Linked DNA regions of Homo sapiens. The protein of the gene in region 2 purifies or fractionates together with the protein of the main gene of each other region. This does not show direct contact. Each region holds a gene or a part of one and is shown on either strand. Other genes may lie near its edges.

Evidence for each region.
Region 1: the proteins of ZBTB7C (region 2) and ZBTB5 purify together in Homo sapiens (affinity purification with mass spectrometry; one large-scale study listed by BioGRID and IntAct). This does not show direct contact.
Region 3: the proteins of ZBTB7C (region 2) and PIP5K1A purify together in Homo sapiens (affinity purification with mass spectrometry; one large-scale study listed by BioGRID and IntAct). This does not show direct contact.
Region 4: the proteins of ZBTB7C (region 2) and KLHL29 purify together in Homo sapiens (affinity purification with mass spectrometry; one large-scale study listed by BioGRID and IntAct). This does not show direct contact.

What each region holds. Positions count from the first base shown.
Region 1 is NC_000009.12:37,444,951-37,448,450, forward strand, and holds part of ZBTB5 (zinc finger and BTB domain-containing protein 5), read right to left. Parts: intron 1-3,500. UniProt on the Homo sapiens protein: May be involved in transcriptional regulation.
Region 2 is NC_000018.10:48,028,384-48,031,883, forward strand, and holds part of ZBTB7C (zinc finger and BTB domain-containing protein 7C), read right to left. Parts: intron 1,529-3,500; coding exon 877-1,528; 3' UTR 1-876. UniProt on the Homo sapiens protein: May be a tumor suppressor gene.
Region 3 is NC_000001.11:151,233,052-151,236,551, forward strand, and holds part of PIP5K1A (phosphatidylinositol 4-phosphate 5-kinase type-1 alpha), read left to right. Parts: intron 1-1,145; coding exon 1,146-1,445; intron 1,446-3,500. UniProt on the Homo sapiens protein: Catalyzes the phosphorylation of phosphatidylinositol 4-phosphate (PtdIns(4)P/PI4P) to form phosphatidylinositol 4,5-bisphosphate (PtdIns(4,5)P2/PIP2), a lipid second messenger that regulates several cellular processes such as signal transduction, vesicle trafficking, actin cytoskeleton dynamics, cell adhesion, and cell motility.
Region 4 is NC_000002.12:23,643,679-23,647,178, reverse strand, and holds part of KLHL29 (kelch-like protein 29), read right to left. Parts: intron 2,126-3,500; exon of another isoform or gene 2,097-2,125; coding exon of another isoform or gene 2,075-2,096; intron 1-2,074.

The DNA of each region.
Region 1 (3,500 bases), on a different chromosome or scaffold from region 2:
CTCCAAGGGGGGTGGGAAAAAAAGGAATGGATAGATAACCTGATGTGACTGGGAGTGCTTGTAATTTACCAGTCCTATCCAAGTGTGCAGATAGGTCATTAAAAAAAACAAGAAGTTTTTAAATGGATCAATGATTAACTCCAGGAAAAAAAAAAAAGGTTGTTTACTCACAGGACACAATATGTAGTTCATTCGTAGACAATATTTACACAGTCATAAAATATGTACACTAAACCGAATGTGAGATATTGGGAGGATGAGAGAAAGCAACTTTGCATGGGGGAAGAGGGTAGAGGAGATGAGGTATAATAAAGTTAAATCTTCACTTTCCTTATTAATCTAGAAATACAGTCTGAAATAGGTTATCTCAAAAAATAGTAATTTGGCATGTTATTTAGAAGTATAGAAGTTAACCAACTTGGTGGTTCACGCCTGTAATCCCAGCGCTTTGGGAGACCGAGGTAGGTGGGTCCCTTGAGCCCCCAGGAGTTCAAGACCAGCCTGGGCAACATGGGGCAAAACCCCATCTCTTACTAAAAATACAAAAACAATTAGCCAGGCATGGTGGTATGTGCCTGCAGTCCCAGCTACTTGGGAGGCTGAGGGGGATCACTTGAGCCCGGAGTCAGAACTTGCAGTGAGCAGAGATCACGTCACTGCACTCTAATCTGGGAGACAGAGTGAGACCCTGTCAAAAAAAAAAAAAGAAAAAAGAAATATGGAAGTCAATAGTGGAAGAAACAGCTGAAATAATTGAAAGTGGTTGCCTCTGAGGAGTGGGTAATTGATGGGGAAAAGGATGGGACAGGGGACTGCTGTTTTGTTGTTGTTTTTGTTTCTTTTTACCTATAAGCCTTATGGAACTATAGGCTGGGTGTGGTAGCTCATGGCTGTAATCCTAACCCTTTGGGAGACTGAGGCGGGCAGATTGTTTGAGCTCAGGAGTTCGAGACCACCTTAGGCAACATGGCAAAACCCCATCTCAACTAAAAATGCAAAAAGTAGCCGGCCATGGTGGCGAGTGCCTGCCATGTAGTCCCAGTGTACTTGGGAGGCTAAGGTGGGAAGACTGCTTCAGCCCAGGGGGCAGAGGTTATAGAGAGCAAAGATCGCTGCACTGCACTGCAACCTGGGCGACAGAGCAAGTCTCTGTCTCAAATAAATAAATACATAAAAATGTATACACATATATTTATAAAATTAAATTTAAAAAAGGTAGATCTATGATATTCTAAAGGGATATACCTGAGATCTTTGCAAATCTCCAAAATTCACAAATACCATCATGGCATTTCATAAGAAGGCAGCATGGGTGCCAAGTGGCTCCCCAGGCCCAACCACTTGCTCTGATGTCCCAGCCATACAGCCTTACAGGCCAAAGTTGGTCAGGATCCTGGGAAATAACTGAAATGGCAAACTAAGTCCACAAAATTCAAGGGTCTACTGTGGCGACTGAGACTATTATGCTATTCAGCTATACTTGGAAAGTTAACTATCGGAAAAGCAAATGCCTCAAAGCAGCAGACACATGTTGGCCATATTGTTTTGCCTATGTTTGTTGAGCTTTGATGAACTTTCAACAACAAAATAGATCACACATACTTTCCCACTGAGGTGTCTGTTCTTTGCTATCATGTATGAGAGATCAGATCTCCAAAGATGCAGCCACTGCCACATCCCTTCTTGCTTTACCAAGCTTTCCGGCAGAAAGCAGAGAGCCAGCAGTGGCAGGCAGCAGCACACACATCCCGGGTCCCCACCCGACTCACTCAGGGCCCACAGAGCTTAAGGCTTTGGGGAGATTAAACAAAATGCAATTACTGCTCATTAAGTCTATAGCCCTGCCTTAGAAAGTACACTCATATATGAATAAGTGCCAAGTTCCAGAGGGGTAATTATTTTGTAGCAGTAACAGGGAAGAAACATTCTGGTTTGAGGAATAAAATAAACAGGGAATTGTGGTGGGAAGTTGTACAAGACTCAGAGTTGCTCTTCTAAGCGACCATGGAAGCTTGGGCTCAACAGGCAAAAACAAGGAACACTAGACACTCAGCGTTACTGCTTTCTCTCCTACAGTGGGGAATAGACCCAGTGTATTAGTCTGTTTTCAACTGCTATAAAGAAATACCCAAGACTGGGTGATTTATAAAGGAAAGAGGTTTAATTGACTCACAGTTCTGCATGGCTAAGGTGGCCTCAGGAAACTTACAATCATGGTGGAAGGCAAAGGGAAAGCAAGGACCTTCTTCACATGGTGGCAGAAGAGTGTGAGTGTGTGAAGGAGAAACTGTCACTTATAAAACCACCAGATGTTGTGAGAACTCACTATCAGGAGAACAGCATGGGGGAAACCACCCCCAGGATCCAATCACCTCCTTCCCTTCATGTGGGGATTCAATTTGAGATGAGATTTGGGTTGGGACAGAGCCAAGCCATATCACCCAGCATTGTAGTAACAGTCTCACTGGTGACAGTAACAGAGGTAATGGTAGTGGTAATAAAATATATATTTTTTACTGTGCTTTTTTTTTGAGACAGGGTTTCACCCTGTTGCCCAGGCTAGAGTACAGTGGCATGATCATAGCTCACTGCAGCTTTGAACTCCTGGCTTCAAGCAATCCTCCTGCCAGCCTGGGATTACAGGTATAATAACAGTAATTACTGAGAGCCTGACAGTCATTATGCTAAGTACTTTTAATTTACATTATTTCTAATCTTCAAAACAACAGTGGCAGGTGGGAATTATTTTCCTGAGTTAATAGGTGAGGGGGGCCATAAAAGACTGACTTCACAAATAAATAGTATTTCAACTAGGCATACTGATTTAAAAGGGCACTAATATTCTGCTCAATGCTTCTTTTTTTTTTTTTTTAGATAAGCAAAAGAACTTATATGAGAAAAATGGCTTACTTAAAAATTACGGGGCTGGGCATGGTGGCTCATATCTGTAATTCCCAGTACTTTGGAAGGCCAAGATGGGAAGATTACCTGAGCCTAGGAGTTGGAGAACAGCCTAGGCAATATGGCAAGCCCTCATCTCTAAAATAAATAAATAAACAATTTTTTTAAATTGTGGTCCCAGAAACACCATTTTGAGGAAATTTTCCAAGAGCCAGGGGATCTTTGAAAAGAGGCTACTGAGGTAGCTAAACACAACCCCAACAAAGATAAAAGGTTTAAGTAATACTGGAAGACAGGCAAACAGTACCTACAATCTTTTAACTTCCCATCAGCCTAGAGATCCTCAGCTCTACACTAGATCCCCCATCACAGGCCTTGAGACCAACTCAAGTTCTCCACATTCCTCTCAAAACACTTTAGGGATGCTTGGAACTTCCTGTTATACCTTGTTGGCAGACCATCTTCAGGCAATACAGAGGCTAATGTCTGCATCATAACTATGATTCCACCTTGGGAAAGTGGGAATCACAATTTGCAGACTATCCAAATGTGAAGGGGGGAAGGGGTGCTCAGAAGATTCTGGGGAGCTGCAAATGACA
Region 2 (3,500 bases):
CGGAAGCTCCCCTGATGACCTGATCTCTGTCTAGTCTGGCCATATTTCTCACCTATGCTAATATGCTAATATAGAGCTGGATGTGATAAAACTAAGTCCAGAAAGATAAACTGTTTCCCCATGGACTTGGGGAGTACAAAGCTTCTACCATCTCTGTGATTCTCTGGGGGGATAGGTGTGTATGTGTTTAGAGGTGGAGGGCGGAAACCTCAGTTACCAGCCCCTTCCATAGCCAGGTGACACTGAGCTACAGAGGGCTGACCTGTCAAGGTCACAGGACAGGTCAGGGAAGAAATGGCCCGGGCCTTCCAGAGCCTGGTTCCTGACTGGTTCCAGGAGGCCTCCCTGCCAACAGAGCATTTCTTTCTATGTGGCAGGTGGGTAGTTCTCAAAAAGACCCCGGGGCCACTGGAGACTGGAAAATGAGCCCTCAGAGGAGTGTTGGCAGAGACTTTGCCATAGGGGGTGGGGCTTAACCAAGGTGCATGCCCAGCCCCTACCTCCTCCTGCTGTGGCTGGCTGGGCACCAGGCCAACCACCCCCTGACCCCTCATGACTCACCCAGCTCCTAAGTGCCCCTGGGCACCCAGTTCTTTGTGGCATGGGCCGGTGCAAGTTTCTATATGAGAGCCAGAGAGACAGGGAGGGAGGCCCGGGCTCCTGGCCTTTTGGGAAAAGATGCCCGTCTCAGACCAGCAAAAGGAGGCAGCTGCTTTAGGAGCCCGGGAAAATGCCATCACTGATAGTATTATTATTATTTTCCCATTTTCCCTTTGTGTTTTTAAAATGAAAAGTTCAGATCCATGGGGTAGGGTAGAGTGGGCCTGGAGGGAGAAGGACTGGAGGGCTGGTGGGCTGGAGCCGACAGGGACCAGCCTAGTTGTTGGCTTCGGACATGGAGGCCACGTGGTTGAGGCCGGCGAGCCCAGGGAGGCCGGCCAGGCCGGCGGCCCAAGGGTCGGGCAGCGGGAAGTAGGGCCGCGCCGCCGCCACGTTCTCGGCCAGCGCGAAGGCCAGGAGGCCCCCCGCGTTCCTCTCAGCCTCCAGCTGCGCGCGCCCGAACAGCTTCATCTGTGTCTCCTCGAACTGCCGCTCCAGCTCTTGCAGGCTCAGGGCGCCCTTGGGCGCTGCCAGGAAGTGCTTGGCGGGGCTGGGGCCCGGGAGGCACACAGCTGCGCCGCCCAGGTGGCCGCCCACCTCGCCCAGCGCAGGGGGCATCACGAAGGCCGCCTTGTCGGGGGCCGGGCCGCCGGGCCCGAAGAGCAGGCTGGCGGCCCTCCACGCAGCAGGCTTGCGGCCGCGTCGGGGCCGTGCCATGCGGCAGCTCTGGCGCTTGATGTGGCGGTGCAGGTGGTCAGAGCGCGTGAAGCTCTTGTAGCAGAACTCGCACTGGTAGGGCCGCACGCCCGTGTGGATGCGCATGTGGTTCTTGAGGTCGTAGTTGTGCACGAACTTGGCGTTGCAGTGGATGCACAGGTAGGGCCGCTCCCCTGTGTGCTTCCGCATGTGGATTTTCAGCTTGTCCTGCCTGCAATGCAGAGACTGGGGGTCAGTCCCGCAGGGAACACCAGGAGCCATTCCTAACCTTTTGCTCCCCCTTTCTCCAGAACCAGCCGAGGCTCCCTACTGCCATGGAGTCAAACCCCAGAAATAGGTCTCATGCTAGATCTACCCTCAACTGCTGCCCCACCTTAGACAGGTATGGTTACTCACCTGGATTAAAGGGATGCGGAAAAAGCAGTGTCCTGAAAGCCCCACTCCCCCAAACTCCTTTTATACCCGAGCTCAGAGTCATGAAACTCCCACTCTATTAGGGGTTTATCTCACATACTGGGAAGATACTTCGCCAGAAGTCAGCATTTCTGACCTTAGTCCTCGGATAGTGCAGCGACTTCTGCTGATACTGGACTGCACTTTAATCTCATACCCACTCTCTCCAGGCAACCTTATGCTTTCCCTCCAGTTCATCTATATGCTTTGGCCCAAAGTCCCTGGTCCCATCCCAGCCCCCGGGCTATTGAGATCTGTCTGTGTTTGGCACTAATCTGGGAGGCTATAGAAGCTTGGGCACACCTTGTTCAAACCTCCTGCATGGTGGTTTCTTATCCTAAGCCTTGGGCTCTCCTCTTTGTCTGTAGACAATTTCAGGGTTTACAAAAGAGCCAGGTGCGAAAAGAATGCAGCCTAATCTAGGGCAAAACTTTGCAGGGTTTAAGTGGTATTATTCACAGGTAAGGTATGGTGTAGGGTGGGGGCGCCTGCACCTATTGGGGGTCTGGGAGCCTCTGCGCCAGCTGCAGACCCACCACCAACTTGCTGGTGACTTCAGGCAAGTTACTTAACCTCACTGCCCAGAGCTGAACCTGGTGCCAGACATCAATTCTCATTGTCCAGGGCTCATGGAAAGAACCTGGGTCTGTGTGAGCTAGATTCCACACACCTCCTGGTGGTCTTGACAGGAAAACTGATATCAGGGGGTTGTTTTCATAAACACTGAGCATTGGGTAAACCAGCTTAAGGTGGCTGAGGTATAGGCAGCTGGGCTGCAAGAATTCCTCTTGGGATAATTCGCAGCCTTCCCCAGTGGGGCCATAGGGGCCAGGAAGCTCTGTGTCTAGTCTCCTACTTCCTCCCTGCAGGTGTGGCTTGGGTGGAGCATCTGCCTATAATTTCAGGCTCTGCTTTGAGGTTAGAACAGATGTGGAGTCCAGGTGTCCTCCCTAAGATGGCCAGATTTAAACCCTGTTTAACGTAATCCTAGGACAGCAGGTGCAGGTCCTAGGCTCCTGGTGTCTCCTGGCCACTAGAGGTCTCACCAGCTCTCATTTTCAAAATGGTTCTCCAGGGGCAGAGCAGGAGAGAAAAGGACATTCCCATGAATACTGGCAGGCACTGTGAGAGGAGGATCAGAGAGGACAGATCCAGTCCTCCCACCTGTGCTCACAGGAAGGCTGGAGAGCCCCTGGGAGTGAGGAGAAGGGAAGTGGGGTCACCCTCTTCCCCTCCACATCCCACTGCTCCTGCCTTTTTTCAAACCCACCAGCCACCCCTAGGCTACATAGTACTCTGCTGTGATATCCCACCCCCTACCAGCATGCTGTGGTCTCTGTAACCCAGATTTCACCTAGATGATTGGATTTTTGAGGAGGAAGGGACTTCAGAGACCATTTAGGCCAGTGGGTCTCAAACTTAAGGATGCATTCGAACCATAATCAGGACTCAATAAAACAGTGCTGGGCCCTACTCCCAGAGAGTCTGATCAGTAGGTCTGGGATAGGGGAGAGGGACAAAGGATTTGCATTTCTAACCAGTTGCCACATGCTGGTGGTGGTGGTGGTCCGTGGACCCCACACTGAGAACCACCGGTCTAGGCAAAGCCTCCACTATGTAGGTGGGCAAACAGACCCAGCTGGGGAACTTGCCAAACTCACCCAGAGGGTCATGGCAGGCCCGGGAGTCAAGGCCTCTTTTCTCACCACAGCACTGTGACTGTGAAAATG
Region 3 (3,500 bases), on a different chromosome or scaffold from region 2:
ATCCTGCCACTGCACTCCAGCCTGGGTAACAGAGCAAGACTCCGTCTCAAAAAAAAAAAAAAAAAAATGTTGTTCAGTTTTGTGCTTTTCACCCCATTTCTTTTGCCTCTCTATGGTAAAAGGGGTTTTGTTTATCTGTTCTGTTTTAAGTGTTGTTGATCTCCCAGGCTCAAGTGATCCTCCCACCTCAGCCTCTCACGTAGTTGGGACTAAAGGCACGCACCACCACACCTGGCTAATTTTTATAAACTTATTTTCTTTTATTTTTTCGTGACGGAGTCTCGCTTTGTTGTCCAAGCTGGAGTACAGTTGCACAATCTCGGCTCACTGCAACCTCCGCCTCCCAGGTTCAAGCAATTCTCCTGCCTCAGCCTCCTGAGTAGCTGGGATTACAGGCATGCGCCACCATGCCAAGCTAATTTTTTATTTTTTAGTAGAGATGGAGTTTCACCATGTTGGTCAGGCTGGTCTTGAACTCCTGACCTCATGATCCGCCTGCCTTGGCCTCCCAAAGTGCTGGGATTACAGGCGTGAGCCACCGTGCCCGGCCTAATTTTTATAAATTTTTAGTAGAGATGAGGTCTTGCTATGTTACCCAGGCTGGTCTCAAATTCCTGAGCTCAAGTGATCCTCCTGTTTGGCCTCCCAAAGTGCTGGGGTTACAGGCATGAGCCACTGCACCTGGCTATTTTCGTCTTCTGTTCTTAGTTCAGCTTCTAGTTTGGGGAATGAGGTAGGTTATTTCCCTTGGTAATACTCTCTGCAGCCTTACTCTGATTGCTATTGGAGGTTCTGGAGAAGTTAGGTAACTCTCCTTACCTGCCTTACCATCCCCAAGAATATACTATACCCAGGGCAGAGAGTGTCGTCTTCTCTTAAATCTCTCTGAAGAAATATATCCATCTTATATTGGTATCCTGGCTGATTTCTGTATTGGAGAGTCTGTGGCACAGCTTGATGGTGAACTTACCATTGAAATAGATGCATAGGGAAATGTAAAGCATATATGATGTAGGTTTATGGACACATTGTGTCTAAATCTCATATAGGAGATAAAGGGAGGATGGGTGGTAACTTTTACTGGTGAGTTTCACTGAAAATCAGCTAAGTTGTTCTCCTACTTCTGTTTCCTTTTGTGTTCTCAGAACCTCAACCAGAACCCTCGGACTTTGCTGCCTAAATTCTATGGACTGTACTGTGTGCAGGCAGGTGGCAAGAACATTCGGATTGTGGTGATGAACAATCTTTTACCAAGATCGGTAAAAATGCATATCAAATATGACCTCAAAGGCTCAACCTACAAACGGCGGGCTTCCCAGAAAGAGCGAGAGAAGCCTCTTCCCACATTTAAAGACCTAGACTTCTTACAAGACATCCCTGATGGTCTTTTTTTGGATGCTGACATGTACAACGCTCTCTGTAAGACCCTGCAGCGTGACTGTTTGGTGAGTTTGTTACTTAGACATCAAAAATCTCAGTTACTAAAACAGCTTGATTGTTCTTAGGCATTAAGTTTGTGGGAGATGGAACTCTGTTCCTTAGCACTGTATGTCCTGGGCTGTATTTAAAATAAGTCTTAATTAGTTCATTGCCATTCCTTTACATTTTTACTTTCTCCCCGTTTATCCTCCCACAATGGGATTTATTTCCTTCTCTAGCTAGCCTGGGCCTCACAGTCAAATGTTCTGCTTATTTTCATACCAACATCATCCTTCCTCAGATTTTGGTCCTGGCTGCCAAATCCAAATTTATATTTTGGAAGCTGAGTGCTGCTGAAGAATATTACACAACCGTGTATACTGGCATCTACAGAATTATGATATCCAACCCCACTTGGGCTTTCAATATCGATCTTCAGTCCATTTGCTGTTGCTCTCAATAGGGATTTCAGATGTTTGGCATTCTAATCAAACCATTTTCTGACTCTCATCTCCCTAGCTTTGTTTCTCAACAAGCTACCTTAACTTTTTATCCTATTTCATCCTCTCATGCTGCCCCTGTCACCAATGGATAAATGTATCTACATTTTACTTTATTTTTTATTTTTTGAGATGGAGTTTCACTCTTGTCACCCAGGCTGGAGTGCAATGGCACGATCTCGGCTCACTGCAATTTCCACCTCCCAGATTCAAGCGATTCTCCTGCCTCAGCCTCCCAAGTAGCTGGGATTACAGGCGCCCATCACCACGCCTGGGTCGTTTTTGTATTTTTAGTAGTGACAGGGTTTCACCACGTTGGTCCCGCTGGTTTCAAACTCCTGACCTCAAATGATCTGCCTGCCTTGGCCTCCCAAAGTGCTAGGATTACAGGTGTGAGCCACCGCACCCGGCCTAGATATCACTCTTGACCTCTGTACTCTTCTGTCATGTGAACACTTCCCACTGTTGCACATATTAAACTGTATTGTGTTTATTTTACATTTGTATCCCTTTCTAAATGTATAATGTCCTTGAAGACAGAAACTCTCTCTTTAATATCTTTATATCTCTGTAAGGAGGCACAGTGCCTACATGGTGGAGATTCAGTAAATGTTTAACTGAATTGAAGCTAGTCATACAAGGTCCTACCACAGATCTGTTCTGTCACAAAGTGTACTTTACCAGAACCTCATTGTGGAATCTTCACAGCACAAATATGTATTCCTTGTTCTTTTGAGAAGGTAGTGTTCTCTTCATGGAGACATACATGGAAAGAACAAAGATGGTCTTGTGGGCTAGGCAGTGGGACTTGGAAAAATTATATTAACTCAAATGAGAGAAAGCTAAGGGTATGTAAATAAAGACTAACCAGGCCGGGCGTGGTGGCTCACGCCTGTAATCCCAGCACTTTGGGAGGCTGAGGCAGGCAGATCACCAGGTCAGGCGTTCGAGACCAGCCTGGCCAACATGGTGAAACCCCAACTCTACTAAAAATACAAAAATTAGCTGGGTGTGGTGGCACGTGCCTGTAATCCCAGCTACTTGGGAGGCTGAGGCAGGAAAATCGCTTGAACCAGGGAGTTGGAGGTTGCAGTGAGCCAAGATCGCGCCACTGTACTCCAGCCTGGCGACAAAGCAAGACTCCGTCTCAAAAAAAAAAAAAAAAAAATTTAGCCTTACAGGTTCACTGTAAGGCTAAATTAAATAATTACATCATGAAAGCTGTCAAGCCAGGCGTGGTGGCTCATACCAATAGTCCCAGCACTTTGGAAGACTGAGATAGGCAGATCCCTTGAGCCCAGAAATTAGAGACCAGCTGGGCAGCATGGTGAAACCGTCTCTATGAAAAATAAAAAATTAGGCAGGTGTAGTGGTGTGTGCCTGTAGTCCCAGCTACTTGGGAGGCTGAAGTAGGTGGATATTTTGAGCCTGGGAGGTTGCAGCTACAGTGAGCCGAGATCACACCACTGCACTCTAGCCTGGGTTACAGATTGATACCCTTTCTCAAAAAAACAAAAAAATTGTGAGATCCTGAAAAATATTTTTATTTCTTCCAAGGCTCAGATCATGTTTTTTTCCTTC
Region 4 (3,500 bases), on a different chromosome or scaffold from region 2:
AGTCCTCCTGACAGAAAAGGGATGCATCCCACCTCCCTTTTAGGGAAGGGGTCCCCATCCCTAAGTTAAATGGCTTGACCAGGGATTGCCAGCCCTGTGGACAAGCATGGGCTTCTTCCATCTCCTCTGCGCTGGGGAGGGCCTGGCCTTCTGCCCCTTCCCTAGCCTCCTTCTCTGCTGAACTCTCTAGACCCTGGACCAGAGGCAATAGCCAGAGCTGCTTTTGGGGTAAGCAGGCACAGTGCTATGTACGGACATGTCCGCAATCTCACTCAATCCTCCCTGAGGCCCTGTGAGGGTGGTACTGTCACCCCCACTTTAAAGATGAGGAAAGAGGCTTAGAGAAGTGAGGAGGCTTGTCCCAGTCACACAGCTATTCCCTGTGCCTCAAAGTATTTTCACAAGATCTCATCACTGTTACTTGTGAAGACAGGGATGAATGCAGCAGCGAGGATGAATGGTGTGCCATGAGGTGGAAGTCCAGTGCCAGAATAGGAAGGGAGGAGCTGGAGAACCAAAGGAAGGGGCTGAACCATCCCTCTCTCCCAGTACGGCCTCCCAGAAGGGAGGACAAGCCTGTAGATGGATCCTCATGACCCCTCACCCTAGGCCCCTGCAAAATATGAAGTCCGAAGAGATACCTTTCCCTGCTCAGGTTGACACGGGCTTTGCTTTCTGGTCTAGAAGCAGGTGGGAGCAGGTGCAGCCTGACTCTTCACTCCCAGCCACGCAGGTGAAGACACAATAGCCTTTCTGCAGCTCACCACTAGGCCTGGAGCTTGGGGCTTTAAAAGGTCCCCATACATCCTCTGAGCCACCAAAAACTGTTTGCCAAAGAAGGCAGGGGTAGAAATAGCTGCATTCATAGCCTGTGCTCTGTCATCAGGCACGCACAGCTGGGTTCACGGGATCCTGGGGTAGTAACACTGACTCCAGGTCTCACCGAGGCCTGAGCTTGGCCACACCTCTCCCCATGTGTTAGCTCGGTGGTTCCAATCCAACAACGAGACAAATGTCTTAGGTACTTCATAACAGGATTCAAATGGAACGAATTCTTTTTTCCTCCCTTATCACTTTGCACACATGAAATCTATTTTTAATTAGCTTTCAATACATCATCTAAAAAAAAAATCCTACAGCTTGCTCCCACCCCCAAATTGTTCTTAGAGAAAGAAAGATTTGTCTTGTAAGTTTCTTAAGAAAATCTATATGTGCTCAATGCATTTAAATAACACTCATTAAAGTGAATGGCACACAAGCTGGCTTCTCTAGTCACAGATGAGAGACAATCGCTTGACCTACTGCAAATCAAAAAGCATTTCCACGCCACCTTTATTTTTCAACTGGTTAAGTTTTAAATTAAAGTCCCAACGCCCTTTTTGGAAAGGCAGACTAATAGGGCCCCAACTGAAATTTGAGCTCAGTCGATCAGAAGATAATTACAAGAAACAAAATGTGAAATTTTAAATCTGGGCACTAATGAAGTCTAAAAATACCAGTGGCCCATCCCTCTGGCTGGCAAGACCTGTTCTTCATGGAGGGGAATCTCCCCATAATTACTCAACCCCGGGAGAGGCCAGGTTGTCACGTCAAACAATAGCAGGGAATATCGGGGACTTTAACGAGCTAGATCTCAAGGCATTGCATGGTGGATCTTATTATAATGCTGGGCAAGGTTTCAAACAGAGAACAGGAGAAAAGGAAAGTTCTTTTTTTTTTCTAAAGTGGAGTTCTGACTTGTGTTGACGCCATCACGCAGAGCCTCCTGTTCCTGCCTGGAGCCAGCTGTCTGTCATTTAGGAGTGTGAAATCAATTGGGCTTCAGAGATGTAAAATCCCTAGGGGCAAAATTAAAAGTGACCCAGATCCAAGCCCACCTGGTCCTGTCAGGAACACGACTCTCACATGGCAAGTTTCAAAGATTTAGTTTCAAAATTCGGGTTTCTTATTTTAAAAAATATGCAGTTGTTTGACATTAGATCTGACAGACAAATTATAGCTTCAGCAATAAAGGCTTTTAAGATTAGAAATGAAAAGAGAAATTACTTATATATTAAAAAAAGAAAAAACCCACCCAGGCTTGAGTTTGGAGGCATTTGTAGGCGCGTGCGTCACTCTTTCTTCCCTGCAAATATAAGGGGCTCCATCAGCTGATGAGGCCGTAAATAGAGAAGCGAGTTACATGGAATTTCGAGGAAAGAGCCAGTGTGCTGGCAACCTCTGGAAATCAGGGTGATGGACCGGTCAGTTGTTGTCACTGGCTAGAGCTGGTGGGTCCCGCTGGCTCACCAGAAGGCAGGGCTGAGGACACTTTCTAGGCCCACCCCATCCCTGGCCCTCACACCTGGCCCTCGGTCTGCCCAGTGGGGCCTGGTAGAGGGAATCTTAGCAGGGCCCCTATTTCTTGTCCCCTCCCTTCCATTGGCTCAGGACCACCACAGAGGATGGTTCACACCCTCAGGTCCTTGCACAGAGGTTACAGGAACAGCTCTGCAATGGTCATTGACCCAGTGGGCACAGAAGTCCTGCAGGGTCCTGTCCCCGCCACCTGTGTCTTTCTGATCTCATGGGCTCAGGGCTGACAATGTTTAGCTGCCTGCACCCAGCAGCTTTGGTGGGGCAGATCCCAGCTTGGTGCTGAGCCCCAGACTAGGGACTCCAGTCCTTTCTCAGCTAGTTACCTTTTTGCACAAAACAGCTCCTTTTCCTAGATGCGTGCCTGGAACGTGGCAAGCCAGCAAGATCTTGCATTAGCCCAGAGGGGCTATGTGGGGACAGAATATGCCACCCGGTGCCTTGGGCTTTGGCATAGCCTTGGAAGTAGGATGCCCGCTGCCCAGTTGTCAGAGTTGGTAACTCATGAACTTGAACTGGGAGTAAGTTTCTTTCTTTCTTTTTTTTTTTTTAAAGGGAGACAGAGCTTAACCAAAACAATGCAAAGAAAAAATCAATTTAGTCATTTTTTTAAAAAAGATCTTAAAGCAAGAGTTTACCAGAATTTAGATGTAATTTTCTACAATTTTGTCATTTAAAACTAGTGCTGATTTCCAAAACAAAGGCAGTTAGGGCTCAGTCAGATTGGGAATTAAACCCAACAGAGATCCAGACATGAGCTTTATTGTTGGGATGCTTGACAAGGCATGAAAATTGCTTGAAATGACAAAGGAAGAGACTTGGGAGAGAAGACAGGAGAGTGGCTAGTGGGGTTCCTTGCTCTGCCGAAAGGCAGAGCACCCCGAAATGCCATCTCAAGGGGTTTTATGTGGGAAGGCTGGGAAGTTGTGCCCAGAGATGCATACTTTCTGGGACCGTCTAGTGTCCTCTTTCAAAAGAGATGTAGACACCCCGTTGGGCCAGACTGTTTGCCATGGACCCTTATGCCCCCACTGCCTGTACCTGGCAGTGGCCCAGCAGCCTTCCCCACTGCATCCAGCAGGAGCAGGGACTTGGCTTGTCTGGGGCACTAAGGGCTAGGCAAACCTATAGCAGAGGAATCCAGC